Linked DNA regions of Homo sapiens: region 2 is linked to region 1. The links come from fine-mapping of genetic effects on gene expression. A gene starts in region 1. The other region holds a variant in brackets. All regions are shown on one strand. Distances are between the middles of the regions.

What was found.
Region 2: its variant is fine-mapped to the expression of SREBF2 in whole blood (TOPMed, PIP above 0.99).

The regions. Positions count from the first base shown.
Region 1 is chr22:41,825,006-41,840,892 of GRCh38, forward strand. SREBF2 (sterol regulatory element binding transcription factor 2) reads left to right here and starts at 8,100. Exons shown (of 19, transcript NM_004599.4): 1 at 8,100-8,353. The coding sequence starts at 8,266. CCDC134 (coiled-coil domain containing 134) reads left to right here. Exons shown (of 7, transcript NM_024821.5): 7 at 693-7,159. The coding sequence ends at 818. SREBF2-AS1 (SREBF2 antisense RNA 1) reads right to left here and starts at 9,660. Exons shown (of 2, transcript NR_157279.2): 1 at 9,438-9,660; 2 at 2,476-8,975. RefSeq lists enhancers at 5,547-6,087, 6,088-6,627, 7,454-7,963, 7,569-8,225, 10,016-10,517 and 2 more and silencers at 8,004-8,343, 8,404-8,793.
Region 2 is chr22:41,568,836-41,584,722 of GRCh38, forward strand. It overlaps CSDC2 (cold shock domain containing C2), which reads left to right. Exons shown (of 4, transcript NM_014460.4): 2 at 3,008-3,306; 3 at 4,820-4,942; 4 at 5,898-7,831. The coding sequence starts at 3,131. The coding sequence ends at 6,060. It overlaps PMM1 (phosphomannomutase 1), which reads right to left. Exons shown (of 8, transcript NM_002676.3): 3 at 15,692-15,768; 4 at 15,446-15,537; 5 at 15,124-15,223; 6 at 9,971-10,046; 7 at 8,973-9,088; 8 at 8,065-8,605. The coding sequence ends at 8,483. Among named protein-coding and RNA genes, the nearest start is that of PMM1, 13 kb to the right of the region's middle. The variant G/C (reference allele first, on the strand shown) is at 11,425.

The DNA of each region.
Region 1 (15,887 bases):
GCTCCTCGGTTTCTGCCCTGCTGCTCATCAGAACAGGGACTCTGGGGAGAGGGAACCATACTGAGTCTAGGGTGCATTTGGGACATCCTAAAGGAGGTCTCAGACAGGCATTTGGAAATGGAGATGCAAGTTTGAGGGGTAACTAACCACACAGGCCAACAGAAGCTATGAGTTAGACGAGACAATCTGGAGAGAGAGGAGGGAGGACAGCCAAGGGCCTGGGTTGCAGTTGAAGAATGCCCCCACGCCACCCCCTACCGCCAATGAAGTCCTCATCCTCCACCCCCCCACTTGCCTTGTCATCTGTGACTCTGGCTGACCTCCCTCCTCTCCTCCTGAAGGGTGCAGCAGGTGTGGGGCTCCCGGGTCTGTGGTGGTCTCAGCCACTCTACTCCCTCACCCTGGAGGAGTCTGTGTGTTGTTTCTCAGATGCCCCATGTAGGTTCCCACCTCAGCATCCGTCCCTCCACCTAGAATACCCTTCCCTTTCCTCATGCCGTTGGTTTGGCAAACTCCTGCTTATCTTCCAACACCCACTCAGCAGTTCTCCCAAACCCATTTCCTGTCTCCGTGTCTGGGGCAGGGCCTGTGTCCAGGGAACCTTCCTATTCCCACACCCCGCTGGTGGCCTAGCTCAGAGCAGGCTCTTTGCTGCCACAGACTAAATCAGACTGCTCTTCTCTTCCCTTCAGTTCATTCCCAGCACTGACCCTTTCCAGAAGGCCCTGAGAGAAGAAGAGAAACGCCGAAAGAAAGAGGAGAAGCGGAAGGAGATCCGAAAAGGCCCAAGGATCTCCAGATCCCAGTCTGAGTTATAGCCCTGGAGCAGCTCAGGGCTCAGGGGGCCACAAGGAGGCAGGTCGGGAGGAAGAAGAGGTGGAGGTGTGGTTGTGGTGGAGAGCACCAGCTAGCCCCTTCCAGAAGGGGAGGCCACATTTGCCCGGCCCCCTGGAGCTGGGTCTGAGCCCCAGCTGAAGGGACTGAGCCTCAGATGGCTGGATTTTCTCTCAGGGGCCTCCTGCTGAAGGGGCCTTCAGAGGATTTTATGCTGGAAATATGACCCTGTGCAGACTGCTGGGGGAGGCAGGAGGATGCCTGCCTGGACCCTGTTGGTGGCTGAAGACCTCTGGCCAGCTGGCTTCCGCCCTTGGTGGGGAAGCAGCAGAACTAGGTTCTGAGCCACGGGTCAGGGTGCCACCCTGCTGCTGGCCCCACTGTGTCACAGAGCTGCCTGGCACAGGTCCCAGCCCCTCTGCAGAGACACAATAAAAGCCAGCAGACCCTTTGGACCGACCAAGGCTGGTGGGGACACTGTGAGGGGACCAGGGCCCCTCAGGGATGTAGAAACAGCTTGGAGGATGCCTCTGCCCCACCAGGAGGGGCCCCAGGCCCTGGCAGGGCAGAGAAGGAAGGGGCTTGGCTTGGGCCTCCTGGTCCTACGCCATCACTGCCCTTGACAAATGATTGGTGTTGGGAAAGGACCTGGAAGTGCCCTGGGACCTGGGAAACATTTAGCTCAAGAAGACCTTGGAGCAACATGATCCCTGTCCTCAGATGTCTGGGGACAGTCATTGAGCAAGCACAGGGAAGTCAGCTTGTTCTCTCTGGCAGCGCTGGAAGACAGTCAACCTGTGGGTGGGGGGCTGCAGGGGGACAGGCCGCAGCCCTGCAGGAGGCCGTGCTCCGCAATGGCTGCCCTAAGCTGCATGGGTCAGACAGCTTCCCGTCTCGGGAGGCCACAGGGCAGGGAAGCTGCAGAGGGCATGTGGCCCTGGGTAGGGCAGCTGCCCTTCACTCATGCCCCTCCCAAGCAGAGGAGGGAAGGGCTTTAGTGAGAATTCTAGCTCTGCCTCTTTGACCTTGCCAAGTCAGGATCTGCCTCTTAAAGGAGCAGAGAAAACCATCCCAGATCCCCTCGACACCCAGCCCCCTACCACTGACAGAGCACAAGTGAGATCTGAGTGTTAGCCCTTCAGATTTGCTGACTGGCCTTGGCCCACCCCTCCCTGTGCTGCAGCTTCATTGGCAAAATGAATTTGATGGTATCTGTATCCCCTGCCCAGCCCTAACCTGTTTCTCTGAGGCTGGCCTCCCTACGGGGCTGCAGCAGCAAAGGGAAGCCAAGCCTTAGAGAAGCCTCATGGAAGGGCCCAGAACATCCTGCACCCATCAGTTACTCGGAAGTAAGGGGACAAGAAGCAGCTGGAAGAGAGCTGGGTGTGGGGGCTGGGAGGAGTGCTGGAGAAATTTCCCCATCAGAAGGCCCCTCACTGGGCAGTGGAGGCAGGGCAGTGTGGTGGGACTGACTCAACAGACATAGTTTCATCTCCACCCTGCCCTTCTCAGGTTGTGTGACCCCAGCCACATGGACACCCGAGTCTGTGAACTAAAGGGCTGGTCCATGGCATTAACAGTGGAGGGTGTCCAGGTTCTTGATGTCTTGAACAAAGAATTGGGCAAAATGCACAAAGCAAGGAAGGAATGAAGGGTTTTACTGAGAATGAAAGTATACTCCACAGCATGGGAGAGGGCCTGAGCATAGGGACTCAAGGGGCCCGTTACAGAATTTTTGGGAGTAAATACCCACTAGAGGATTCCATTGGTTACTTGAGGTACACCCTATGTAAATGGAAAGGATGAAGTAAATTTACAAATTCATTTACAGCATATACCCTATGGGGAGGATATTCCCTGTTATAGCTGAAGCGTGAATTGGCCTTATGTTCCCTGCCTCCAGACCCTATTTTCCTGCATCAACGGGAAAGGGTCAGATTCACTGGCTCAGCTGTTTAACCTGTCCTGGTGCCAGCAGCTGGAGCTGGGTGTCAGGACCAGCCCGCAAGCTCTTCCCTGCCGGAAGGACCAGGCCAGTCGCTGTCCTTTTCATGCTAGAGAGTGGTTGTGGTTGCTGACTTAGCAGAGAAGGTGCTTGGCTTTCCCCTTAACTGGAGAAAAAACTTTCTAAGAACCAGGCCTGGTTGGCAGCAGACCTAGCTTTCTTGGGGTGGCAGGGAGGCTAAAGCATACCTCAGGACAGTCAGTGGTGGGTCCAGCTTCGGCTGGAGGTTCTTTCTACTGAATAACTTCTACGGGCTCTGTCATTAGCAGGATTTGTATAATTTGAAGCAGAGCTGGGCAACTGCAGAGCAATGGGGAAGCCAGCCCAGTGTGGTGGCAAGACCTGGGCAACTTGGGACCAGCCTGGGCTGTCTCTTGCCAGCTGTTGTTATCAGAACCAGGCTCTTCACACTCAGATCCTTGGGCCCCCCATCTCAGAATGCCCAGTGGTTGAAAGGATGAAACCTGGAATTTAAGTGACTTCTCAGTGATGTGTGCCCTTCTCTGACGGTTCCTTGTTCATCCCATGTATTTACTGACTGCCTGCTATATATGCAGAGCCAAAGAGTGGGGCCTGGTCTTGAACTATCTCCTCATCTGCCCCTTCTGGCACCTCCTTCCTCCTGGGCTCTTTCCTCTAATACCGTCATCCTCTCTCCAACCTGGTTAATCCTGTCCTTTCTGCCCTCAAATGGGCACCTTCAAAGAAACAAATAGAACTACTCCACTCGCTCCCTCTCTCCCTCCCTTTACTGCCACTATTGATTGTTATAGTCACTTGCTCCAGGAAGTCCACTTGCTGAGTCTTACTGCAGACAGAGCCCACCCCCTGAGCTGTAAAGGCCCTAGGGCACATGTTTGTCCAGCTGCCTCTTGCAGCTGGGATTGTTAGGTCACTATAGCGCTACCAACTGCATATACCACTGTGGGAGTCGTGCTGGTGGCGGTAGTGGTCACAGGTACCAGGGGCAGCAGTGAAGGGGTGGCTCTAATGCCAAGTCCAGTGACCAGTGCCAGGGTGCCCAGTGGTGGCAACAGTGGTGTTTTCAGTGTGATCTTGGACATTGCTCCTGTCTACTCAGCTGCTAGTCTGTGAGCTCCCTGATATCCTTTAAGACAGCGTTTTCCAGCAGCGGCACTATTAACGTTTGGGGCTAGGTAATCGTTGGGTGTGTGAGTGTGAAGAGGGCTGTCCTGTGTGTTGTAGGCTATTTTAGCAGCATCCCGGCCTCTCCCTGCCAGGTGCCTGTAGCAGTCCCCCAGTTACGACAACCAAAAATGTGTCCAGACATTGCCAGATGTCCACTGGGAGGGAAAACCTCTCTGGTCCACAGCCCTTCTCCTTATTCCAGTCCCACATCTTCCTCCCCTTCCCCATCACTGTCCTCAGAGAGATGCTGTTGACAGCTCCTTGAGGTGATTCTCTCAGGCTTGTTGTTGTAGTTCTCTGCTGTCAAGTCTGAGCTGACTCTCTCTTCCGGATTCTTCTTTCCTCACCTGCCCCCGTTTGCATGAAGTTTTTTATGGAGCTGTTTCTATTTTCTTTTTGGGCAGCCATACTCTCTAAGACCTAAAAGCTGAATACTCGCCCGGTTACTACCTGATAATTCTCATCGCTTATGTTTCCAAAACCAAACTGGTTATTTCCCTCTCTAACCCCATCTCTGTGTCAAACAGTGGAGTACATGCTTTTGGTTAATCCAATTGGAAGGCTTCCTAGAGGAAGTAATATCTGAACTGAATCCTGAAAGATTAGGGGAAGAGGAAGAAAAGGACAGGTGCTGTGGGAAAAAGGGGAAAGTGTCAGAGGAAGTAAATGAAAAACCATATACAAAATTATCTTCTGTGACCCGTAGCACATGCCCAATCCATGGTAGATATCGAAACATAGTGGTTACCCAGTCTAATCCATCCCTTTTCTTTCTTTCTTTCTTTTTTTTCTTTTTTTTTGAGACAAGTCTCACTTTGTTGCCTGCCTGGAGTGCAGTGGTGCGATCTCGGCTCACTGCAACCCCCGCCTCCCGGGTTCAAGTGATTCTTCTGCCTCAGCCTCCTGAGTAGCTAGGACTACAGGTGCTTGCCACCATGACCAGCTAATTTTTGTATTTTCAGTAGAGATGGGTTTCACCATATTGGCCAGGATGGTCTCGATCTCTTGACTTCGTGATCTGCCTGCCTCGGCCTCCTAAAGTGCTGGGATTACAGGCGTAAGCAACCGTGCCCGGCTGTCCATCTCTTTTCAGATGAAGAGCTCAGGTTCTGAGGAGTGACTTGTCAAAAGCTGTTCTACCTCTCAGAGCCAGCCCTTGTCCTCCTGCTAGCCAGAGCAAGGTACCACCTGGAAGAGATGTTCAGTTACATGGGATCCAGGGCCAGAGGGAAAATATCAGTGCTTCCTGAGGTTCGGGTCCAGCCACCCTTCTTCCACCATTTCTACTGAGCCTTCAGTTGTACCCCTTCAGTCCACTTGGCGAGGCATCACGCCCTCTGGGCAGGCTCAGTGGGGAACTATGGGAGCAGGTGCTGTGTGCCACCTCTGGAGGGGGTCACTGAGGTTCTGGGTTGTGGGGGGTGCCCTGGGCCAGAGTGAGTTGTATGGGAGTTGTTGCTGAATCCCCCCAGAGTACCAGTCACACACCAGTGTGAGGGGCCTTGCAAGAGCCACTGGGCAGCACAGTTGAAGGTGGCACCTTCCTGCTCAGTGCTGTGTCCAGAGCAGGGTTTAGTTTTCTGTGTCTTTCAGGGTGAGACTGGTGTATTCTATACCAGCCTCCCTGTGTGTGAACAATGACGAGAACAATGTTGTCTTGCTTTCCCAAAAAATAAGACACTATCTATTTCTCATTAGTTATACACGTTCATTATAAAACGTAATTTAAGCAATACTGAAATGCCAAAAAGAAAGTAAAATTCACTCCAAAAGTAAAATTCACCCCAAATCTCACTACTCCTGTAACTATGTCTGACAGCCAGCTGTTGGGTCTTCCATCGTTTTTAACCTTCAGGTGAGCACACAGATCCTTATTTTTTCTTTTCTTTTCTTTTTTTTTTTTTTTTTTTTTTGAGACGCAGTCTCCTGTTGCCCAGGCTGGAGTGCAATGGCGCGATCTCTGCTCACCGTAACTTCTGCCTCCCGGGTTCAAGCAAGTCTCCTGCCTCAGCTTCCTGAGTAGCTGGGATTACAGGCATGCACCATCACGCCTGGCTAATTTTTGTATTTTTAGTAGAGACGGGGTTTCACCAAGCTGGCCAAGCTGGTCTCGAACTCCCGACCTCAGGCAATCCGCCCACCTCAGCCTCCCAAAGTGCTGGGATTACAGGCGTGAGCCACCTTGCCCGGACTCTCTTTGTATTTTTTCTTTCTTTTTTTTGAGACAGAGTCTTGCTCTGTCTCCCAGGCTGGAGTGCAGCGACATGATCTCAGCTCACTGCAGCCTCTATCTCCCAGGTTCCGGCAGTTCTCCTACCGGTTAGCTGGGATTACAGGCATGCGCCACCACACCCGGCTAATTTTTGTATTTTTAGTAGAGACGGGGTTTCACCATGTTGGTCAGGCTGGTCTCCAACTCCTGACCTCAAATGATCTGCACACCTCGGCCTCCTAAAGTGCTGGAATTACCGGTGTGAGCCACCGCGCCTGGCCAGATCCTTATTTTTTCAATTGCAATACAGCAGTATGCAAGGCACTTACTGTATGCCAAAGCTTATGCCGAGAGCTGGCTGCCAGCAGCTCCTCCTGCCTCGAGGCCTTTGTCCATGTCATCATTTCCCCTTTGGCTGTAACAGCTGCAGTTCTCTCATAATTTTAGGTTTCATCTTAAATGTCACTTCTTCAGAGGCTTCTTGACAGCACAAGTCAGGGCCCTTGTTAGTTTCATCACATCCATTACCTTTCCTTGATCACTTGTACCATCATCTGTAATTTATTTTTATGTTTAATACGGGTGTGGGATTTCTGATTTTTTTTTTTGCTAGACTGGAAGCTCTCAGAGGGCAGGAACCATTTGTTTCCCTGCCACAGAGATGTTCAATAAATATTGTCAATTGAATGTGCAAATAATCTCACTTAACCACAGCTATGAGGGATGCTATTTTATCCCCATTTTAGAGATGACTAAACTGAGGCTTAGAACAATTAACCCAAGGTCACAGTGAATTAGTGGATCCATGTGTCTGCCTCCACACAGCCTGTGTGTTCTTAATTATTGATCACTAAGCAACAGCTGCCTCTCACAAACTGGCAGGAAACTTCAACTTTTCCCTTTTATCAATATATTGTGAACGCCTTTTCTTGCTAATAAATATACATTTGTGTGCGTAATTTTTAATGATCCCATGGTATTCCATCGTGTGGATGTAATTTACATATTCATTTCCTTATTCTCACTTCTTCCTAGTTACAGCACTTCTTTAAGCACTTGTAATTTTTATTCCTTTGGATAAATTCCTAGAAGTTTACAACACGACCAGCTGCAAGATGGGGCAGTGAGGTGCTTGAAGGAGTGGGTGGGCTGCACTTCAGAATCCCGGTGGAACTTTTTCAAAAAACTCGTGCCCGGGGCCCCCCTCTCAGGAGGCCGTCGGTGGGCCTGGGCACTGGCGTGGTTTTCAGGTCCTCAGTGGTTCCGAGGTGCCAGAGATTGAGGACCACTGGAGTAAGCGCGAGGTCACGGCGGGTGCAAAGCAGAAGACGTAAAATCCTGACCGCCCTGGGACAATCTGCAACCTTGTCAAGCCTCCGTGCCCGCCTTTGTAAGGAGGCTGGGAGAAGCGGGACTTGGATGACCCGGACTCCCGTCCCGAGCGCTGGGGTCCAGGTTTGACTCCGCTGGCTTTCTCAGGCGGGCAGGGCGGGGGTAGGCAGCTGGGAAGATGACGTAATGTGCTCCCAGCCAGGCCTGGAGGCGGCCAGCGGTCGCAGGTGGAGGGTGGCCTGTTAACCCTTCACTCCCAGGCCAGTGGACGGACTTGCGTGTGGCGCAGATCCAACGGAGAAGGCAGCGGCTCCTTTAAACAAGGCGGAGAAGGTTAAGATGATGACCGGACGGCTACTCCAGGCATTCGCTCCGAGGCCGCGGGGGGAGGGACCTCACTATGCAAATCTGAGCTGCTGATCGATGACGCGCCATCACCCCACGCACCGCTTCGCTCGCCCATTGGCTGAGATGAGCCTGGTCCCATTGACAACAAACAGGGGGGCGCGCGGCCTGGAGGCGGGGCCGCAGGGGGCGCGGGCTGGGGCGGGGGAATCCCGCCCCGCCCTTTCTGTGCGGCGCCCGGGCGCAACGCAAACATGGCGGCGGGTGGCACCCGTCGGTGAGGCGGTGCCGGGCGGGGGTTGTCGGGTGTCATGGGCGGTGGCGACGGCACCGCCCCCGCGTCTCCCTGAGCGGGACGGCAGGGGGGGCTTCTGCGCTGAGCCGGGCGATGGACGACAGCGGCGAGCTGGGTGGTCTGGAGACCATGGAGACCCTCACGGAGCTGGGCGACGAGCTGACCCTGGGAGACATCGACGGTGAGTGGTGGGTGGGTGGGAGTGCGGGGGCCGCGCGGGGAGGAAGGGGTTACGGCGGCGCGCCCGGGTGCGCGTGCGCCCACCCCCCGACAGCCCCGGTTCGCGCGGGAAGAACCCCGTGCGCACGGTGCCCCCGGCGGTCCTCAACCCTTCCGGCGCTGCGAGCGTGAGCCCGACCCAGCTGCGCCGCTCCGGGAGGCCGTGGGATCTGGGGCGCCGCGGGGCCGAAAGCGGCGCGAGGGTCGCGGGTTCCAGAGCGCGGGGCTAGGGACGTCGCGGGGGCGTCTCAGGGAGCGGCCTAAGGAGAGCGCGTGGCCGCCGCCTCCCTCGCGCGCCCACACGCGGTTTCCGTGGTCCGCTCTCCCGCCGCCCGCGACCGCGCGTCGCACCTGTCACTCCCTTCCTGGCCGCGGGGACGTCTTTGGGATTCCCGGGGCCCAGCCCCCAGTCTCCGCGCCCCGAATCCCTGGGCTTCTCAGGATTGACCGACGGCCAGGTCGCCGGGTGCTCCGCGAAACTTTGGGCAGCGACTGCAGAAGCAAGTTGCTGATGAAGAGAGCAGTGGCGGCGGAGTGTGGACACATCTCTCCGGGATGGAGACCCGGGCGCTCCTGCTGTCACGCTGCAAGGGGAATTGAGCAGAAGAAATTTTGAGTTGTGGCCCCTCGGGTACGGGCTGGGGAGCGGGTGGCCTTTGTTCCAGCGCCTTAACAGCGGAGTGGAAGAGCTGGTAGGAGCCCAGGGATCCACTCTTAAAATACTAATTTTGCGACCACGGGAACAACGATTTGGAGAGGGTCAGCGGCTTGCTCAAGGTCACCCAGCTGGTTAGAGCCTAGTTCTTGCAGTTCCTTGGCCAGTATTGGTTTTTTTATACCCCTCCTTTCAAGAAAGAGTCCAGTTGACTAGGCTAGTAATCTTATTAACTGGATAGTTGCACTCTTATGTTTAGGCCCCAAAATGCTTTGTATTATTTCACTTCTTCCTCACAACAATCCTGTGAGATACTCTTATTACCTCTATTTTAATACGGTAATTAAAGAAGCCGAGGCCAGGAGATGTTGACTTATCTAAGGCCACTCACCTTAGAGAGCTTAGGCAGAAACACAGGTGCATTGTACTTTTCAGTTTTCAGAATGCTTTCATGTCCAGGATCTCACTACAGCCTTGCAGGCATGTATGATGGCTACATCCCCGTTGTGCAGATGAAGAAGCAGAAGCAGCAGAAGATTCTCTTTTGGGGGAAGAGATAAATGCAGCAGCTAATTGAAAAGGATCTGTTTGCCATTTTCCCATTTTGCTTTTGTAATATTTCTCCCCTTGGTTTGTCCTTGATTTCCATTTTGGTCATGTGGGCAGTGTGATAAGACCCTTAATTGAAGCCCCAGTTCTAACCACAGACTCTTTGCTAAGTGCTTCTAAATACAGAAATGGGTTAACAAATGGGGGATGGGGTAGGTGGGGGTTGGGAACATAGCAAGGGCAGCTAACATGTTTTGAGAACTTCTGTGCCAGACGGTGTTAAACAGTTATACACGTTAATGTTCTCAATCTTCCTAACAACCCTGTCAGGTAGAGAGAACTGTTATACTTGTCATCTCCCTCTCACTGATCCTGAAAGTGAGGCCCAGGGTGGTTCATTAATTTACTGAAGATTACACAGCCAGTAGAAAGTACTGTATGTCTATAGCTGCCTACCTGCAAGGGCACAGAAAGAAATTCATGTGCATTTTGCATTCCTATTCCATGATCAATTCCTATTTGTCTTATTTTGTTTATCTGATTTTTAAATTTAAATTTTTATTTATTTAGTTATTTTTTGAGACAGGGTCTCATTCTGTCACCCAGGCTGGAATGCAGTGGCACAATCATAGCACAAACTCTTAGGCTCAAATGATCCTCCTGCCTTGGCCTCCCAAAGTGCTAGGATTACAGGTGTGAGCCACCTAAATTTTTTTTTTTTTTTTTTGAGATGGAGTTTCGCTATTGTTGCCCAGGCTGGAGTGCAATGGCGCGATCTCGGCTCACCGCAACCTCCACCTCCCGAGTTCAGGCGATTCTCCTGTCTCAGCCTCCCGAGTAGCTGGGATTACAGGCATGCGCCACCACGCCCGGCTAATTTTGTATTTTTAGTAGAGACAGGGTTTCTCCATGTTGGTCGGGCTGGTCTCCAACTCCCAACCTCAGGTGATCCGCCCACCTTGGCCTCCTAAAGTGCTGAGATTACAGGCATGAGCCACTGTACCTGGCCGAGCCACCGTGCCTGGCCGAGCCACCTAATTTTTTTTAGAGACAGTGTCTGGCTGTTGCCCAGGCTGGAGTGCAGTGGCACAATCATAGCTCACTGCAGCCTTGAACTCTTGGGCTTAAGCAATCCTCCCAGCTCAGCTTCCCGAGTAGTTAGGACTAAGGCATGTGCCACCACACCTAGCTAATTTATATATATATGGTAGAGCCAGTCTCACTGTGTTGCCCAGGCTAGTCTTCAACTTCCAGGCACATGCAGTCCTCCTGTCTTGGCCTCCCAAAGTGCTGGGATTACTGGCATGAGCCACTGTACCCGACCCTGTCTTAATTTGTAATGAGTTTAAATTACCTAGTGGTTAATACTGTCTTTATCCCCACAGATTTCTGAATAAAATGGAAACTACCACCCTCTGGAAACTACCACAGTGGTTCAGTGGCTTCATAGGTCCATTAGGTTTGATCCCAGTGGAAGAAGATTCCATTTCTCTGTCCTTCCAGAAGACCTGGTTTATAACAGTGCATAAGGCTTTTTCTCAAAATAGTTATATACCGCACAAGGAAGAGGTGTGGCTGTTGTGTCACAGGAGACCTAGGGGCCAGGTTTGGGAAAAGTGGTTCCATGTCTTCAGTTGATCAACAAGTATTCAAGTGCTGGCTGTGGTTTCTGAGCTGTAAGGAATCGTGAAAGATAGCATAGAATTTTATGGCTTCATGGAGCTTGAGATGAGAAACTCTAGTGCCAGTATGGAACAGCTTAAAATTGCACAGCACAACAAGTAAAAGTCAGCAGTGAGGGTAGCTTGGTAAAGGCTGGCTTAGCAGGAAGACCACACCAAAGAGGTGGCTCTTGACCTGGGCCTTGGAGGACAAAAAGAGTTGGGCATGCTGAAGGTCAGTGGTCTGAAGATAAAATTATCCCTTGATTCTCACCCCTGTGTTCCCATTACTGAATGTTAGCTCCTTGAGGCAGAGACCTTCGTTTCATTCCCACTAAATTCTTTGAACCTAGAACAGTGCCTGGCACAGTGAGAGTGCCCATTAAATATTTGTGGAATGCCTGAGTGATCCAGTGATCTTGGGCTGGGCAGGATACTAATTGTCTTGGACATGGTTTGGAGTTGGATTAGATCAAGGAAATAGCCAGCCTGGATGCTTCTAGGAGCCGGTCAGGTGAGGAAGGGGAGAGGCAGGCAGGGTGAGTACATTTACTTCCTTTGTATGTGTATGGTGGGGATAAGGGGTGGATGCAACCTAGAGAGCCTCCAGGAGGTGCAGGCAGGCAAGGATCCATTCATTCCACAATGTCTGCTGTGTTCCAGTCCATTGGTACCCTTCAAGGATATGGGCTCAGGGAGGCCACATTCATTTACTCATTGAATGGCTTCTAAGTATTCATGATGGACAAAGGATAACTTGAGCGCGACAGATCATGTGTCTTCTCTCTCACGAAGCTTACATTCTTGATGGAGGAAATACAAGTTGAGTAAAATAAATGAACAGTTTAGGCAGGGCACTGTGAGCAAAATAAAATTGGGCCATATTATAGAGTGTGACTGGGCTAGCCTACTTAGATTCGGAAGTCCAGGGAGGCTTCTTGGAAGAGAGGTATCAGTGTCTGTTTTTCAAGAGATGCCGAAGTCTGGATTTTTATTTGAAATACCCAGATTTTTGGCCGGGCACAGTGGCTCATGCCTGTAATCCCAGCACTTTGGGAGGCCGAGGTGGGCGGATCACCTGAGGTCAGGAGTTCAAGACCAGCCTAGCCAATATGGTGAAACCCCATCTCTACTAAAAATACAAAAATTAGCCGGGCATGGTGGTACACGCCTATAGTCCCAGCAACCCAGGAGGCAGAGACAGGAGAATCACTTGAACCTGGGAGGCAGAGGTTGCAGTAAGCTGAGATCATGCCACTGCACTCCAGCCTAGGCAACAGAATGAGACTCTGTCTAAAAAAAAAAAAAAAAAAAATGCTGGACACGGTGGCTCACACCTATAATCCCAGCACTTTGGGAGGCCGAGGCGGGTGGATCACCTGAGGTTGGGAGTTTGAGACCAGCCTGACCAACATGGAGAAACCCCGTCTCTACTAAAAATACAAAATTAGCCGGGCGTCGTGGCACATGCCTGTAATCCCAGCTACTCAGGAGGCTAAGGCAGGAGAATTGCTTGAACCCGGGAGGCAGAGGTTGCAGTGAGCCGAGATCGCGCCATTGCACTCCAGCCTGGGCAACAAGAGCAAGACTCTGTCTCAAAAAAAAAAAAAAAAAGAAAGAAAGAAAGAAATACCCAGATTTTTATATGTTGGCTCATTTAAAAAAAAAGTACTATAGGCACCCAATAAAGCATGTGTGCTAGTTGATCTCTGGGGTCTTGTACTACTGCAGAACGTCCTGTTGTCCCAGGCCCCCAGGTTTCCCATAATAGAGTAAGTCTACCATTTCATTTTGTGTTATATATCTCTATTTTGAGAAAGGGCCTCATGTGCCATTACACACCAGGTCTTCTGGAAGGGCAGCAAGGTGGGATCCTCTTCCACTGGGATCAGGAAAGAAACAGTCATGGAGGTGACCTTTTTGCTGGGTCCAAATAGATGGGTGGCAGGAGCAGCCTGACAAGTATGTGGGAGGAGTTAGAACAAGCTGCCTTTGGAAATGAAAGTTTACTAGAGATTTCTTGGAATATAGTGTGTGTGAGGAAACAGTAGAAGATGAGGTCTGAGAGGTGAGGTGGAGCTAAATTGTACTGTAGATGCAAGGTGTTTTATGGAAGATAGGGAATTGTTGAAGATTTTCAAGTAGGGGGTGACATATTAATCATGGGTTTTTAAGAAAATTGAATTGTGGGCTGGGCTCAGTGGCTCATGCCTGTAATCCTAGCATTTTGGTAGGCCGAGGAGGGTGGATCACCCGAGGTCAGGAGTTCGAGACCAGCTTGGCCAACATGGTGAAACCCCATTTCTACTAAAGATGCAAAAATTAGCCGGGCATGATGGTGGGCACCTGTAACCCCAGCTACCTGGGAAGCTGAGGCAGGAGAATCGCTTGAACCTGGGAGGCGGAGGTTGCAGTGAACCCAGATTGTGCCACTGTACTCCAGCCTAGGTGACAGAGCAAGACCTTGTCTCAAAAAAATAAAAGAGAAAGAAAAGAAAATTGAACGGTGGTGATAGGCAAGGAAGATTGGAGGCAGGGAGGCCAATTAGGAAACTGTAGCCATCCAGGTGTGAGGTGATGAAGGGTGACAAATTTGGATGGGAAGTGGCCCTCATTCAAATACCTTTCCATGGCACTGACTTGGGCCTCTGCTTGCTTCTCCCTGCAGAAACCCAGTTTGACAGAGTACCCTGCAGTACCTGGCACTGACTAGGTGTTCTGTAAAGGTGTGTCTGATGAGGAAAGGAAAGCACCTCAAGTTCAGTCTGAGTGTTCACACCATTGGGAAGGTTGGAGTGGCCAACTGGGTGAGCAAGGAGTGAGTGTTGGGGATGTGACAGGACATGTCCTCACTGAAGGCTTGTCCCTGAAGGCAGAGCAGAGGGAGAATTCTAAGATCCCATTAAGACTTTGAGCCTGGAGCACTGGGGGAGTTAGGAGTCAGCAGAAAGAGCTGGTTAGGGGAAATGATGAAAATTTATCTTAATTGTGCTGAAATTGGGGTGCCTGGGGGTCATCCATTAGGAAATGAGATGTAGATACTTAGGAGAAGGTAAAACTGGGATGGAGATTGAAGAGAGTCACTGCTGAGTCAAGAGGAGAGAACTGGGAGATTAGAGGTTAGGAAAGTGTTAGCTTTTCAAGGAGTAGTCTGTAGATGGTGGAGACAATGCCACAGAGAACAACAAGGATGACAAGGCCATGCAAGGAGTCGTGGGACTTGGTATTAGGAGGCCAAACCTTGCCAGAACAGTCAGATGAGGGAATCCAAGGCAGAAAGGAAGCAGGGGTGAGTGGGAGATGGGCAGGTGGAAGCAAGTAGTTCTCTTTGGAGAAAGTAGAATAATTTTTTCAATGAGCTGATCTACTTTCTGTCTTGATGAGTTTGCCTGTTCTGGACAACTCATAAATGGAATCAGACAGGTAGCATAATATTGCTTAGGTTCATCATGTTGCAGTGTAGTGTTCCATTGCATGGACACACCGCATTCTGTTTTATCTACTCTTCAGTTGGTGGACATTTGGGCCGTTTCCACTCTGGCTACATTATGAATGAAGCTGCTACAAACTTGTGTACAAGTTGCTGTGTGGACATATATGTTCATTTCTCTTGGGTAGATCTTCTACATTTTTTGTTGTTTATGTTTTCCAAGAGCTTATAATAAATAGTCCCATTTATTCACATGCTTAGTTTCTTTTTTTTTTTTTTTTTTTTTGAGACGGAGTCTCACTCTGTCGCCCAGGCTGAAGTGCAGTGGCGCGGTCTCAGCTCACTGCAGCCTCTGCCTCCTGGGTTCAGGCAGTTCTCTGCCTCAGCCTCCCAAGTAGCTGGGATTATAGGCACCCACCTCCACACCCAGCTAATTTTTTGTATTTTTAGTAGAGACGGGGTTTCACCATCTTGGCCAGGCTGGTCTTGAACTCCTGTCCTTGTGATCCACCCGACTCGGTCTCCCAAAGTGCTGGGATTACAGACGTGAGCCACCGCGCCCGGCCCACATGCTTAGTTTCTATGTTCCTGTAACTAATTTGCCCTAAATCTTGTGACAGAAACTTGCAATGTGGTGGTCAGTTCCTTTCTTTCCTGTCCCATCTGATGGCTATGGTTTAGGTCTGCTCTCCCTTCACTTATCTTGGGACAACCCCTAACCATCACCCTTGGGGGCAATGTTGAAGCTCTTCTTTCCCAGTTCTTGATTTTTACTCACTTATTTTAGTGGAGCACATCCTCCAGTGGCTTCCTGAGAAAGAGTACATTTAGGTAACTCTTCGAGGCCTTGCCTGTCTAAAAACATCTTTCTACCAACCTCATTCCACTTTGGTAGTTTGGCTGAGTTTAGAATTTTAGGTTGGACAGAGTTTTATGTCAGAATTTTGAAGGCATTGTCTGATTATCTTCTTGCTTCTAGTAGAGAAATCTGATGCCATTTCCATTCTTGATCCTTTGTGTGACCTGTTTTCTTCTCTGGAAGCTTTTGGGATCCTGTCTTTATGTTCTGAATTCCATGACAACGTGCCTTGATGTGACTGGGCCGACAGTCACTGTCCCAACTTGTTGGGGCTCTGGAGAGCTGTGTCTGATACCTGAATTCATGCAGTCCCCCTGCCATCAGCCTCCTTGTCACCTGAGC
Region 2 (15,887 bases), 260 kb before region 1:
CCCAGAATCATCAGTGGGTTCTTCCCCCATCCCTGCAGCCCACTTAGCATGAGGCCCTGGAGCCGCACAGTCACTTGGGTGGGAGGTCTGGCTGGCCAGAGCAGGCCCCAGCTCAGCCGCGTCTCCCTGGTAACCACCATGAGCTGCATCTCCCCCTCTCCATCCTCCTCTTCCCTCCCTGCCCCTCCATGGCCTCCCAGCACTGGCTGTCACTGCCAAGCACAATACCAGGCCTGGGAAAACTGCAGTTGGGAGGCCAGGACCGCCCTGCTCCCTAGAGAGAGGGAGGCAGGGCCTCTGTCCCCATCGCCTGCCAACCCTCACCCAGGTGGGGCAGGTGGCACTCAAGGAGTGCACTGCAGGGCGTCTGGTGCTTCCCAGCTGTGTCATCTTGGGTAACTTTGCTGCCCCGTCTTCTTTTTTTTGGTAACAGCTTTACTGAGATATCGTTCATATACCATAAAATTCACCTGCTTAAGGCGTTCAGTTCAGTTGTTTTTAGTACATTCACAGAGTTGTGCAGCCATCACCACAGCCAATTATAGAACATTTCCATTCCCCAAAAAGAAACGTTCTACCCATTGGCAGCCCTCCCCTCTCCCTCCTTCCCAGCCCTGGTGACCACCAGTGGACTCCCTGTCTATGAGGATTTGCCTCAGAGATGGAATCATGCCCTCTGTGTTTTTGGGACTGGCTTCTTCTCTGTGACCTTGCAAACATTCTCGCATAATGTGTGCAGGGTTCATCTAGGGTGTAGCGTGAATCAGTATTTCTTCTTTTCTTTTTCTTATGGCCAAGTGCTAGTCTACCATGTGTCTAGACCATAATTTATTATCCATTCATCTGCTGATGGGCTCGGGCTGTTTTCACTTGTTGGCTGTTGTGAATGAGCACTGGTGTGACCATTCATGAACATTTATGTCCAAGTGTTTGTGTGGTTGCTTTTTTTTTTTTTTTTTTTTTTGACAGAGTCTGGGTCAGTCACCCACCCTGGAGTGCAATGGTGTGGTCTTGGCTTGCTGCAACCTCTGCCTCCCGGGTTGAAGCAATTCTCATGCCTCAGCCTTCTGAGTAGCTGGGACTACAGGTGGATGCCATCACACCCGATTAATTTTTGTATTTTTAGGAGAGACGGGGTTTCACCATGTTGGCCAGGCTGGTCTCGAACTCCTGACCTCAAGTGATCTGCCCACCTTGGCCTCCCAAAGTGCTGGGATTACAGGTGTGCGCCACCACACCCGGCTGTTTGTGTGGTTGCTTCTTGAAGCTTCCGTATTCTTCTCTCTAAAATGAGGATAATGGGTGAAAAGGCCAAACCTGGTTTGCCCTGCCAACCTGGCATGAGCTTAGACAGAAAAGCCCCACTTCAGCCTTTTCAGGGTTGAGGGTCTGTGAGGCAAGCCAAGCCCGGGGCTCCAGTGCCTTCCTGACTGGAGGGGGAGGGTTTTGGGAGGAGGGAGGATACTACTCCACCTCCACCCCTAGGCATGGCAGAGCCAGCTCAGCATCTTGGTTCAGAAAAATTCCACTTGCTGTATAATCTTGAGCAGAGGCCAGAAGACCTGCTCCAGTGGACTCCTGGACTCATCCAGGCCTGCCATGCAGGGTGTTCAGGCTTTCTGAGCTCTGGACTCCAAGGAACCTTACAGGAACCTTGTGGGTGATTTTCCTTCCCTGGGAACTCCAAGCTCTGGGGTGGGAGGGGTATAAATTGGAGGCCACAGGCCTGTAACCCCAGCATTTTGGGAGGCCGAGGGAGGTAGATCAACTGAGGTCAGGAGTTCGAGATCAGCCTGGCCAACATGGTGAAACCCCGTCTCTACTAAAAATACACAAATTAGCCAGGCGTGTTGGCAGGCACCTGTAATCCCAGCTACTTGGGAGGTTGAGGCAGGAGAATCACTTGAACCTGGGAGGCAGAAGTGACAGTGAGCCGAGATCACACCACTGTACTCCAGCCTGGGTGACAGAGTGAGACTCTGTCTCAAAAAAAAAAAAAAAAAAATTAGCTAGGTGTGAGGGTGCATGCTTGTAAATTCCAGCTACTTGGGAGGCTGAGGTGGGAGGATCGCTTCAGCCCAGGAGATGGAGGCTGCAGTGAGTCATGACCATGTCAGTGTTCCCCAGACTGGATGAGACCATGTCTCAAAAAAAAAAAAAAAAACAAAGGATCAATGCTAGCCCCATTTTACAGAACAGAAAATAAGAGTCAGAAGTTAAGAGTGTTGACCAATGCGCTGGACGAGTTGGCTCATGCCTGTAATCCCAGCACTTTGGGAGACCAAGGTGGGCAGATCACCTGAGGTCAGGAGTTCGAGACCTGCCTGGCCAACATGGTGAGACCCCATCTCTACTAAAAATACAAAAAATCAGCCAGGTGTGGTGGCAGGCGCCTGTAATCCCAGCTACTCAGGAGGCTGAGGCAGGAGAATCGCTTATACCCAGGAGGCAGAGGCTGCAGTGAGCCGAGATCGTGCCAATGCACTCCAGCCTGGGCAACAAGAGTGAGACTCTGTCTAAAACAAAAAAAAAAATTTGACCAGAGCCAAGGCTATGTAGCCAGAAGGTGGAGGATGCAGGATTCAAACCCAGGCCTGGGTGTGGAGCCCATACTCCCACCTGCCATGTTGGAGCTGATGTGTGGCTTGGCTTGCTTGAAGTCACCAAGTTGTAGGTGACAAAGCTAAGGTTTGAACCCAGATGTGTGACTCTGAAACAACTGACCCTTATGCCGAACCATATTCTAGACCATCACTGGCCACCCTACCCAGCCACCTCCCAGGCCCCTGGAGTTAAGAGAATTGAACTGCAAACTGGAAGGACTTAGGGGTCATATGACCCCTAGTTTTGTTTTTCTGGTGAGGACTCTGAACCACGATGGGGTCGTTTGTGACTTGAAGTAACGCCGTGAGGATAGCAGGTGGGACCAGCCCTCCTCACTGTGGCCAGGGTTCAGGAGCTGCTCCCCTGGACTAGGCTCACCTGTGCCTCTTTCTTCCTCTTCCAGACGGAGCCCGTGGCTGGTGAGGCCGCAGAGCAGGGCCAGGCCGGGCCCTGCCCGCAAGGACGACCAAACCCCTCACCGGCCCCTGGGCCCCAGAGCCCACCAGGCTCTCCTGCTGGCCCCACCATGACTTCAGAGTCGACGTCACCCCCAGTTGTGCCCCCGCTCCACTCCCCCAAGTCCCCAGTCTGGCCCACCTTCCCCTTCCACAGGGAGGGCAGCAGGGTCTGGGAGCGGGGTGGTGTCCCACCTCGGGACCTACCCAGCCCTCTGCCCACCAAGCGGACCAGGACCTATTCAGCGTGAGTACCTGCCCCTTGCCCAGGCCCCTGACCCTTGTCAGGACAGGGGCTGACCATCCCCATCCTCTTCCAACTCCTGTTGTCCTCACCTGGGACAGGGGAACTGTGTGTGGACCTTCCAGTAACTGGATGGATGTTTGTCCCATACATCCATTCATCCATCCACCCATCCACCCATCCATCCATCCATCCATCCATCCATCCACCCACCCACCCACCCACCCACCCACCCACCCACCCACCCACCCATCCATCCATCCATCCATCCATCCATCCATCCATCCATCCATCCACCTGTCCATCCATCCATCCATCCATCCACCCACCCATCCATCCGTCCATCCATCCGTCTGTCCGTCCATCCATCCACCCATCCATTCATCTATCCATCTATTCCACAAAGATTTACTGAGCTCCTGACCAGTCAGGATCCATAAGCTGCTTACAATCCAGAGGGAACTTGTTCACCATCCATTACCACCCAGCAGGGTTAGGGGTGAGGACCCAGCATGGGGTACCAGAGGAGATGATGTCCTGGTTGGGTATGGAAGATGTATCAGGTGAAGAAGGGAGCTGGCGATTCTGGGCAGATGGTACAGCATGGGCAAAACCCAAGACACGGAGTTAACCTTTGGAGAGGGGTAGGTAGGCGGGACAAAGACTAGGCCTGGGCCTTTGGGGTAGGTCACCGATGAGGTGGCATAGGGGAGTAATACGGGTCCATATGGGGGAGGCCAAAGGATCTTTTGGGAAGGACAGGGTCTCGCTCTGTTGCCCAGGCTGGAGTGCAGTGGTGCAGTCATGGCTCACTGCAGCCTCAACTTCCTGGCCTTCAGCAATCCTCCCACCTCAGCCTCCTGAGTAGCTGGGACGACTGGTGCGTGCCACCACCCCCAGCTCATTTTTTTAAAAAAATGTTTGGGCCAGACATGGTGGCTCATGCCTGTAATCCCAGCACTTTGGGAGGTCGAGACAGGTGGATCAGTTAAGGACAGGAGATCAAGCCAGTATGGCCAACATGGCCAAACACTGCAAAACCCTGTCTCTACTAAAAATGCCAAAACTTAGCTGGGTGTGGTGGTGGGTGCCTGTAATCCCAGCTACTCAGGAGGCTGAGGCATGAGAATTGCTTGAACCTGGGAGGTGTAGGTTGCAGTGAGCTGAGATTGCACCCCTGCACTCCAGCCTGGGTGACAGAGAAAGACCCTGTCTCAAAAAAAAAAAAAAATTTTTTTTGTAGAGATGGGAGTCTCCCTATGTTGTCCAGGCTGGTCTCAAACTCCTAGGCCCAAGTGATCCTCCCGCCTCAGCCTCCCAAAGTGCTGGGATTACAGGTGTGAGCCACCGTGCCTGGCCTCATTATCGTTGAATGGGGATGACTGTGTGGTTTCTGGCCTGGGTCAAGTTTCTCACAGCCCTGAGGCACGCTCAGCAGAAAGGGCCCAGAATGGCTGTAGGGATCCGGGGAGGAGTTCCTCAGGCCACAGCTCCAATCCCACTACCCTATCTCCAGGACAGCCCGGGCCTCAGCTGGCCCCGTGTTCAAGGGCGTCTGTAAGCAGTTCTCACGCTCACAGGGCCATGGCTTCATCACCCCCGAGAACGGGTCCGAGGACATCTTCGTACATGTGTCTGAGTGAGTCCCCTCCACCTCCCTGTTCTTGGCCCCTGCCCTAGTGTCCCCAATGGTGCCTCAAAAATGGCTCTCCAGGCCTCTCCTCTCACTGGCTGAGGTCTGTATTCATGGTGCCTTTTCTGTCCTCTGAGTAGGGGCTGAGGGTGCGTTGGGAGAGGAGGGCTGGGGCCAGGGAGGGAGTGGGCACGCAGACCCCAGAAGCCTGGGAGCCAGCGGCTGGGCCCTGGATCCTGTTACAGCATCGTGGAGGTCTGAGAGGGCTAGGCCAGCTCCTGAGCCTCTTGGCCTGGAAAGGGCCTTCATGTGGGTGGGCCAGGAGGTAGAGATGGATATCATGTCTAGGCCTGGCCCCACCCACTTCTAATGCCAGGAGGACCGGGGGAGGTCACTGAGCTTCTCAGAGCTTTAGGGACCTCCCCGTGCCCTTTCACATCTCGGTCCCCAAGGGACCCAGAAAGGGAGGTACAGTTTATGAGTCCCATTTTATTTTATTTTATTTATTTTTTGAGAGGGAGTCTCGCTCTGTCGCCCAGGCTGGAGTGCAATGGCACAATCTCGGCTCAGTGCAACCTCCACTTCCTGGGTTCAAGCGATTCTCCCACCTCAGCCTCCCAAGTAGCTGGAATTACAGGTGCCAGCCACCATGCCTGGCTAATTTTTGTACTTTTAGTAGAGCCAGGGTTTCGCCATGTTGGCCAGGTTGGTGTCAAACTCCTGACTCAGGTGATCCGCCCGCCTCAGACTCCCAAAGTGCTGGGATTACAGGCGTGAGCCACTGTGCCCAGCCATGAGTCCCGTTTTACAGATTCGAGAGCTGAGGTTCTGAGAAGCAAGGCCTGGCCAGGCCTCCTGGCCTAGGGAGGCTTAGGGCCAGGCTGCCCCCAAGGCCAGGCCACAGGATTGTCTGGGGCACAGGGCCTGCTGCTGGGCTAATACCCCTCTTCCTGCCCGCCAGCATCGAGGGGGAGTACGTGCCAGTGGAGGGCGACGAGGTGACCTACAAGATGTGCCCTATCCCTCCCAAGAACCAGAAGTTCCAGGCCGTGGAGGTGGTGCTCACTCAGCTGGCCCCCCACACTCCCCACGAGACGTGGTCTGGCCAGGTCGTGGGCTCCTAGGCTGAGTGGTTCACAGGCCAGCTGGCCGGGGGTTGGGGAGCCACACAGGGTGAACGGGCAGCAGCCGGCTCCATGCCCCACTGCCCTGGCTGATGAGTCCTTCGGTGGCCTCAGTGTGCACGTCTGTCTGTCCGTCTGTGCTTGTGGCTATGAGCGTGTGCCTCCACCCACCCCACGACCCGTGACTACTGTGCAAGCTGGCCAGGAGGTAGGTGGAGGGCAAGGCCACCAGACCTGGCTTCGCGCTGTCCACTGCCTCTCTCCTCCCCTCCCTGCCGCAGACACGCAGGACCCGCTCGCCCTCCTGCTTACCCGTCCCCACGGTGACTGAGCTGCGAGAGCCTGCGCTGGGCTCACTCCCTGGCCTCCGCCCCTGAGCTGTCCCGTGTCAGTCCCTGGCCCGGAGCCAGGCTCTCTGTGCTACTTACATCTCCCTCCCTTGGCTGAGGTCCCCCGCCACAGCCTGGACCCTTCCCTCAGAAGCCTGGCCGATGGGTGCTTTTGGGGAGCCTCTCAGCCTCTGGCAGGGGAGGAGGACTGACACGGAGGCACACAGGCCTCTCACTGCCGAGGCCAGCCTTCCTTCCTGCTCTGCTCTCTCAGTGCCATGGAGAGGCAGGAAGAGGGGCCTGAGGGCGGAAGGGGTTTGGGGCTCCCATTTCGCCGGCCAGTCCCTCCTCCTCAGCCTGGCAGTGGCGCTGGGCTCCTTCCCCTGGGCTGTACTGAGCCGAGCCCAGGGGTTTGCAGAGGGTGGGGGTCCATCTCTCCAGCTTGGCTGCAGACCTCCTTTACCCTGACTCACAAGCCCCACTGATGCTCTGGGCCATGCCCGGCTGACGGCTGCTGTGGATGCCGCGAGGGACGGACACACGTCCGGGGCACCCACGAGGAGGGCCCCCAGCCTGGGAGACTGGCCCTGCGGCCTCCACGTCAAACTCTCTTCCCAAAGCCCTAACAGACCAGTGGCCGAGGTGTGGCTCTTATTGCATCCATCCCTGAAGATGTGTGGCTGTTGCTGTCACCTGGAGTCCTTTTGGGGCCAAGATGTGTGTGCACCCGGGGTCGTGGCCATTCACTCCCAGGCAGGGGTGAGGGTGGCCTGGCCCAGGAGGCCAGGAAGGAGGGCCCTGTCTGCCTCCACCTCTGGGTGCACCCCCTGCCTACCACCCTCCCTTCTAGAGAGCACATCGCCTGACCGGGGAGAAGTGGGGCCGTGGTTCGAGGGAGGGCTGGCCAGGGGTGGGACCCTTATGAGACTCAGTCTGTGAGTAAAACTGGGGGCTCAAATGCCCAGGATGAGGGGATCAGTGACTGTCTAGGAGGATCCCTTGCCTTGTAGGTGCCCCAAGACCGCAGGGTAGAAATCAGCCGGGATGCCTGCATCCCACCCCCGGCCCCAGGGCCCACCACATAAAATCTGGGAGCCCAGAGCTGCTGAGGTGTGGTCAGCTCCCCTAAAATGGGCACGGCCCAGCCTGTCCCATGAGGAATAAAGGCCCCTGGCCCCCTTGAGAGAGGGCTTGTTGGTGAGGGCTGACTCCTGGGGGCCCCCAAGGCTCCCCTCCTGTGGGGAGGCCACCTTTTAAGGCACCACTAGCAGTCAGGATATGGTGGCATCAGCCCTGGGGCCTCCTGGGTGGCAGGGGGGCAGCAGCTCTCCTCCCCACTCACAGGCCCTGCAGTGCTCATTTGGAATTCCTCCCAAGACCCCTGGCCACCCAGACCCCCCATTCTTCCTAACACTGGCAATAAACCCTCAACTGTGACCCACCGTGGCCTGAAGCTGCCTCTGTGTCAGGGTCCCCAAGGAAGGGGCTGGGGGTGGACACACCAAACCAGCTCTTCTTTGGGGATTCAATGGCCCCCTCCTCGACTGCATCAGACTTCCTTTGTGACCTGGGCCAAGTCCCTGCCCTCTCTGTGCTGTTTACTTGTCGGCAAAGTAGTGGCTGTGACAGCATGTGACTGGGGCCAATTATCCATTCAGACACAGCTGACACCTACTTTGTTCTGGGAACTTTAATACTGTGACAAAGTTCTCTAAAATAGGCACCTTCCCCACCGTACCTCATCGCCCAGGGCAGGCAGGCAGGGCAGGCTAGATCTCGTACCGATACTTGAGCACGCCTCCTCCTGGTGCAGAAAGAAACCTCTTCTGTACCGAAATACAAGCAGCAGCTGTGGCCTGGGCCACCAGGTGGAGCATGGGGAACACTCTGGGCCCTGGGAGGACGAAGCCAGTGCCACTAGGAGCAGACTGGCTGGGGACGGTTGTCCACACAGACTCTGGCCCCATCTGGGTGGGCTTGCAGCAGGCGTCCTGGGCCAGAGGAGGGGCCCTGGCATCTATCCAACACCAGGACCTCTCTTTAGGCCTAGGCCAAACTCTTCAGAAGTCACGACACACAGATGTGGGCCCCGGTCACGCCTCATGAGCTGTCTCTGGGAAGAAAATCTCCCGGCATCGCTGCACCGTGTCCTGAGGAGACACCACGCTGTGGCCAACAGTCCGGGGGTCGGCAAAGATCTCAAAGTCGTTCCCACCCTGCACACAGAGGATGGGCAGAGGAGGGATATTTAGGTGGAGTCCCTCTCCACATTGGCTGCTACGGACCTGCCCCTCCTCCTGCCCCTTCAGAACTGCCAGGAAGCCCACCTTCTCACCCCTTGTCAGACCTGCCCTGACTTGCTGTGTGATGTAGAACAAGTGCCCAGCCTCTTGGGGCCCCAGCTTTCCAATCTGTGTAACGGGGCTGGTGAGCAATGGTTGTTCTCCAGGAGCCCCCTAAGAGGTCTGTTGTGTTGCCCCATGTTCTGGCCTTGACCTCAGGTGATTTGCATTGGAGAAGCCACCAGACCTGGCTTCTCACTGTCCACTGCGTTAGGGGAAACCTGGGGTGGGCCACACTCACAGGGCTAGTCTCGTTCCCAAAGAAGTGGATGGTGTCGAAGCTGTCCTGGTCCAGGCTATCCAGGCAGTAGCGCTTGTCCCAGCCCTCGGGGAAGACGTCAAAGCTGATCATGCCTCCTGTGGGCAGGGGTGGGGACTGTTATTCCCTGCTGGGAGGGGCAGACAAGGCTAACAGAAGGGCTGCTTGTTCATTCATTCATTCAACAACCCTTGAGTGCCTACTGAGGGCCAGGAATAGGACACGGGACAGACTTAGGATCCTCAAGGAAGTTATGACACAGGTTGGAGAATGAACAAGACCATGAAGTGGGTGGGGGAAGCTCATCCGGCCAGGGTGATCAGGGGAGACCTCTGAGGAGGTGGCAATGAGCTGGGACCTGAGCCGAGTGGGGATGGCTGGGGCGCAAAGTACAGCCCCTGAGGCAGGGAAGAGAACGAGCGTCCCAGCAACGGAGGAGGCCAGGAGAGGTAGGGGGAGGACGGGCAGGCCCTGGGCATCACATGGAGAGGGAGGAAGAGCCTGGGGAGGACTTTGGGCAGAGGCATGTCATGACTCCAGCTCCAGCCTCTCTGGCCACTGGGGAATGGGTGAGGTGGCAGAGGGGAGCCCAGTTGTGTCAGGGTCAGTTGGAGCCTGGGACAAGCTGCTGGCAGTGGAAGTGTGAGCACCGGTGGGATTCCAGACAGGGGGCCCTGTGACTTCTAGGAGTTTGGACTTGGGAAGGGGTGGGGGAGAGCATTCAAGGGAGAGGCTCTGGTTTTTTGGCCTGAGAAACTGGGTGGGCATGGGGCGTTTACCTCTGAGGTATGAGGTGGGGAAAACTGGGGGCCAGTAAACACTGAACCCCTTTCTGCATCGGGCTCAGCCACCCTCTCTGCCCTGAGCCGGGGAGGGGCTACTAAAGCTACTGGGGGCCACAGCCTGGTCTTGGCAGGGGCAGATGGTTTGAGGAGGGGCCCTGTACCAGGCCTCCCAGGTCCTCTGCAGGGTGGACGTACCTCGAGAGAACCTCAGCCCTTTGCCAGCAAACTCTGTTTTCAGGGCTTCCACGAACTTCTCCCGGATCTTCTCTTTCTGCAGAGGGGAGGGAGCGGATGGCAGCTCAGAGGACCTGCTGTGTGCCAGGCCCTGGCTGGGCACACAGTCCACGTGAGCGTGCTGAGCATTCTAGGTGGGTAGGACCCCCAACTGTGCAGATGCGCAAACTAAGGCTCAGAGAGGGGTTGTGCCTTGGTCAAGGTCACCTAGCCCTGGTGGCAGAGCCAGGGCCTAAATCCAGAAGGGATGGGGCTGCCAATGGGGCTGTGGGCTGGGTCTTCTGAAGGAGACCTCAGAGGAGAGACACGAGTAGGAAGGGCGAGGAGACGGGGCAATCTGGATCCCACATCAGTGTCCACCTCAGGGCAGGGCTCGATCCTGTTATCTGTAACCAGCTCAACAAAGCAAATACTCAGAAATGAGCATGGGAGCTGAGAGCAGGAGACCTGTGAGGAGGTGGCTGTGGGCATTCACAGAGGGCAGCAGGATGCCAGGCATGGCAGAGCACCCAGCATGCAAAGACGCGGCTGGGCTGGGGACTAGGTAGTGCCCAGGCCGGCCCCGTCCCTCTGAGCAGGAACTCTGGCAGCAGCTCCGCAAACGTGGAGCAGGGGGACATTCTCCCCGCCAGCCCCCAGGATCTCCATCTCAGAGGGCCACAAAGGGGAGCAGCTATGCCCAGTCTGAGGGGCAGCTGAACATCTAAACCAGCCAGCAGGACATTCAGCTGACAGAGGGTCTCGAGACCGGGCTGGGAAGTCTGACCACATCCTGGGGGACCAAGAGGCGCTGAGGATTCTGGAGCACAGGAGTGGGGTGGCTGGTATGGCCCTGTAGTCAGAGCCGGGTAGGACTGGGGCGGAAAGGCAGGCAGTGGTCAGCAGCATGGAGCTTGGAGAAGTGGCCCAGGGAGGATGTCAGATATAAAGCCAGACACCCCCTAGCCTGAGATCTGAAGGCAAGTAGCCAGGCTTGGCTACTGTACTCCTCAGCTGTGTGACCATGGGCAAGTCACCTGACCTCTCTGAGCCTATTTCCTGGACTAAAGGACAGAGAAGTAATGAATGACCCCTGCCTGCTTCCCTCTCATGGAAAAGCAGAGATAAGGGATGTGAGCCCCCTGCCAGCCTTGGCCTGGCTTTCCAGCAGGTAGGTGGGCCCCAGGGAGGCCAGAGTCCCCACCAGCGTCCACTCTGTAGGCCCAGGGCTACCACTAAGACTGCCCCAGGCTCTGAAGAAATGTTTCCACATGGCCGAGGCTGGCTGCACCTCCCTTCTCTGGAGAACAAGGCTGGTCACTAGACAGCCCCATGTGCAAGGCCAGCCTCAGCAGGGACCGGCACTGTGACCTCGAGCTGGTTACTCACCCTCTGGCCTCAGTGTCCTCATCTAAGGAAGGGAAGTACTCATCCCC[G/C]CTTCAGGGTTCTGGAAGATGAGCTGGGTTAAGCATTTATTTACACCAGCTCTGGGCCAGGGCAGGGCGCACAGATCAGGAAGGTTCATGCTCCTCCAGTGCCAGAAGGGAGCAAACAAGAGCCAAAAATACTTGAGAAGGCTCTGGGGTGGGGAGTTAGGGTGTGGCTCCCCAACTCCATGCCAGGTGGGGTCCATGTGCCACCTCATCCAGTGCTCATGACAGCCCATGGGATGGGAACTGCTATTACCCCCACCTTACACATAAGGAAACTGAGGCACACGTTAGTAAAGATGCTTTTCCAGGTTACAAGGCAAATGGGTAGAGCTGGGACTGGGAACCTGGGTGGACAGGAAGGGATAACTTCTCAGCACGTGTATTGGGGGGGAAGGGTTCTTTGCCTAAGACCAATCCTAACTACCCCAAAAAAAAAGTCCCCGTGGCCGGGCGCAGCGGCTCACATCTATAATCCCAGCACTTTGGGAGGCCAAGGTAGGCAGATCACTTGAGGCCAGGGATTTGAGACCAGCCTGAACATGGCAAAACCCTGTCCCTACTAAAAAATACAAAAATTAGGCCGGGCGCGGTGGCTCATGCCCGTAATTCCAGCACTTTGGAAGGCCAAGGAGGGCGGATCACAAGGTTAAGAGATCGAGACCATCCTAGCCAGCATGGTGAAACCCTGTCTCTACTAAAAATACAAAAATTAGCTGGGCGTGGTGGCAGGCGCTTGTAGTCCCAGCTACTTGGGAGGCTGAGGCAGGAGAATCGCTTGAACCCGGGAGGCAGAGGTTGCAGCGAGCCGAGATCTCACCACTGCACTCCAGCCTGGCGACAGAGTGAGACTCCATCTCAAAAAAAAAAAAAAAAAAAAAACCCAAAACCAAACCAAAACCAAAACCAAAACCAAAAAACTTAGCCAGGTGTGGTGGCATGGGCCTGTAATCCCAGCTACTCAGGAGGCTGAGGCAGGAGAATTGCTTGAGCCTAGGCAGCGAAGGTTGCAGTGAGCTGAGATCATGCTACTGCACTCCAGCCTGGGTGACAGAGCAAGACTCTATCAAGAAAAAAAAAAAAAGTCCCTGTGCCTGTGGGCACTGCCTCCCCTAAGCCTCAGGGCACAGGTGGGAGTCAGGAGTCACTGAGCTGAGAGGCACCCTCAGGGAGGCACCAGAGGGCCAATGGCAAAATCAAATCTTTGCTCTGCAACCAACTCCCTATGTGACCTCGGGCAGGGCCCTTCTCATCGAGCCTTGGTTTCCTCATTTATAAAATGGAGATAATACAGCTCATTTCATTCATTCAAAAGGTATTTCTTGCCGGGCACAGTGGCTCACACCTATAATCACTTTGGAAGGTTGAGGTGGGTGGATTGCCTGAGCTCAGGAGTTCGAGACCAGCCTGGGCAACACGGTGAAACCCCATCTCTACTAAAATACAAAATATTAGGCCGGGCACAGTGGCCACGCCTGTAATCCCAGCACTTTGGCAGGCTGAGGCAGGCGGATCACGAGGTCAGAAGATCGAGACCATCCTGGCCAACATGGTGAAACCCCGTCTCTACTAAAAATACAAAAAATTAGCTGGGCATTGTGGTGCATGTAATCCTAGCTACTTGGGAAGGCTGAGGCAGAAGAATCGCTTGAACCAGCGAGTCAGGGGTTCCAGTGAGCCGAGATTGTGCCACTGCACTCCAGCCTGGTGACAGAGCAAGACTCTGTCTAAAAAAAAAAAATTAGCCGGGCGTGGCAGCATGTGCCTGTAGTCCCAGATACTTGGGAGGCTGGGGCAGAAGAATTGTTTGAACCCGGGAGGTGGAGGTTGCAGTGAGCCGAGATTGTGCCACAGCACTCCAGCCTGGGTGACAGAGCGAAACTCAGTCTCCAAAAAAAAAAAAACAAAAAAGGGTATTTCTTTGCGAGGTGCGGTGGCTCACACCTACAGTCTTGGTGCTTTGGAAGGCTGAGGGAGAAGGCCCACTTGAGGCTAGGAGTTCAAAACTGGCCTGGGAGACACAGCGAGATCCCATCCCTACAAAATATTTTAAAAATTAGCCTGGCATGGTGTAATGCACCTGTGGTCCCAGCTACTCAGGAGGCTGAGGTGTGAGGATCGCTTGAGCCTGAGAGATCGAGGCTGCAGTGAGCTAGGACTGGATCACTGCACTGCACTCCAGACTGGGCAACAGAGTAAGACCCTGTCTCAAAAACAATAACAACAAAAAGTATGCCATGTGCCAAGCATAGGGGATCCAGAGGAGAACAAGCCGCAGAAATCCCTCATGGAGCTTACAGTTCTGGGACAGGGACAGACAGTAATTCGGATTTTAAAAGTAGATGATGAAAGTTGTCCAAGGCTACTTGGGGAGAAATAAGGTAGGGGAAGGAGGAGGAAGTGCAGCAGTGGATGTGATACTCTCGGAGGCCCCACTGGGAAAAGGATGTGAAAGGGGATTTGAAGGAGGGGAGGGACGAGCTGGGCCTGAGAGAAGTGTGCTCTGACAGAGGCACAGCACTCTAGAATCAGCCAAGAGGCCATAGCTGGAGCAGAGGGCAGGGAGAGCCACCGAACAGGTCAGAGAGAATGACAGAATGACGTGGACGGGCCAGCATGGAAAGGTCTGGATGGGTGGATTGCTCCATCCCCGAGAGGGAGGGAGGCGGTGGGGAGAAAAGCAAAATGCACATCAAGGTTTAGCAGGGGCAGTACAGGCAGAGGTGAGAGGACCTTGGTGTGTTCCAGGAATAGAAAGTGGAACTTGAAGGGCATAGAAAGGAGACGCGGAGAGCCAGAGCCAGACAGAGCCCTCAGGGCTTGAGGCACCATAGCAGGGGGCTAGGACATCATCCAGTTGGCAACGAGGAGCCAAGGAAGGATTGTAAATGAGGGGGTGGGGCTGGGGGGTGAATGCGGCTGACATGTTTGAAAGGTTCTAATGGGCTGTGCGTGGTGGCTCATGCCTGTAATCCCAGAACTTTGGGAGGCCGAGGCAGGCGGATCACCTTAGGTCAGGAGTTCGAGACCAGCCTGGCCAACGTGGTGAAACCCTGCCTCTACTAAAAAAGTACAAAAATTAGCTGGGTGTAGTGGTGCATGCCTGTAATTCCAGCTACTTGGGAGGCTGAGGCAGGAGAATCGCTTGAACACGGGAGGTGGGAGTTGCAGTGAGCTGAGATCATGCCACTGCACTCCAGCCTCTATCTATTTTTTTGGAGACTCTATCTCCAAAAAGAAAAAGAAAGAAAGGTTCTCAGTGGCATTGCTGGAGAGCAGGCTGGCAGGGCTATGCAAGGGGTAGGGAGGGACAGAGAGGAAAGTTGGGGCAGCCTGGGGCTGGGGAAAGGGGTAATCTAGAAAGTGGGGTCTCAGTTCTGCAGATGAACAGATTTGACACTGACTCGAGAGGCTGATGAAATAAGAGTTGTTGGACCCGATGTGGGTGGGAAGGTGGAAATGATGTTCCCAGGTGTTGGCCTGGCTCAGTGGGTGGCTGCCTGGTGCTGGTCACCTAGGAAGGGGGACCAGCAGCATTGTAAAGATGCAGGTGTGTCTACAACAATGGCACACAGTAGGTGCCTGAAAGGGTATCAGTTAAATCAGAACACATCCCCCAGTCTATTTTACTGATGAGAAAATAAAGGCTCAGATAAATTGAGTGACTGAGGCCCTACAGGCCTAAGATTGCATAGCTAGTGGTACCTTGTCCAGTTCGGAGAACTCGATCCTCTCCTCCAGGGTGCAGCTCCGGCCGATGGGCGAGATGTTCAGCATGCCATTCCGGAACTCGATGAAGGTTCCACTGGTGGTGAGGGAGGGCGGGGAGCCAGAGAGAACCAGAACGGCCCTGAATTCAAATCTAGCCCCACCTGGGACCCCAGCCTCCTAGGACTTCAAAGGGGACAAGAATCCACACTCCCCGCAAAAAATCAGGGGCCCAAGTATCTCCAGGTTCCCTCTGAGGGACCCACACTTCTCCTCCCTCAGGCCCCAGGTTCTGGAGACCAGGCTGGTGGGACCTCACCGCTTCTTGGGCAGCCTGAGCAGGGCCATGTAGCTGAGGCAGAAGTTGATCAAGTCCTGCAGCAGCTCCTCCCCCAGGTGGTTCTGGATGGTCTGGCCAAGGAACACAGGGCTCTGAGCGTGGCCTGGGCTGCCTGACCCTGAGACAGGCACAGTGTCTCTCCCCCAGCCCAGGACAGAAGCCCCCTTGGACTGCTCCACTATGGAAAAGTGGGGTGCCCCTGGCTAAGCCCTGGGGGACACTGACCTGCTTGGAGAGCAGTCGTCCGTGCTTATACTGCACCGTCCCGTTCTCGGCAAACACATAATCAAACTTCTCAATGACTTCAGGGTCACATAGAGGACAGGAGGAAGAAAGAGTGTGAGACCACGTCTGTGACCCCACGGGCAAGTAAAGAGAGAGGAAGCCTACACCCTTGGTTTCACATTCAAAGGCCATTTGT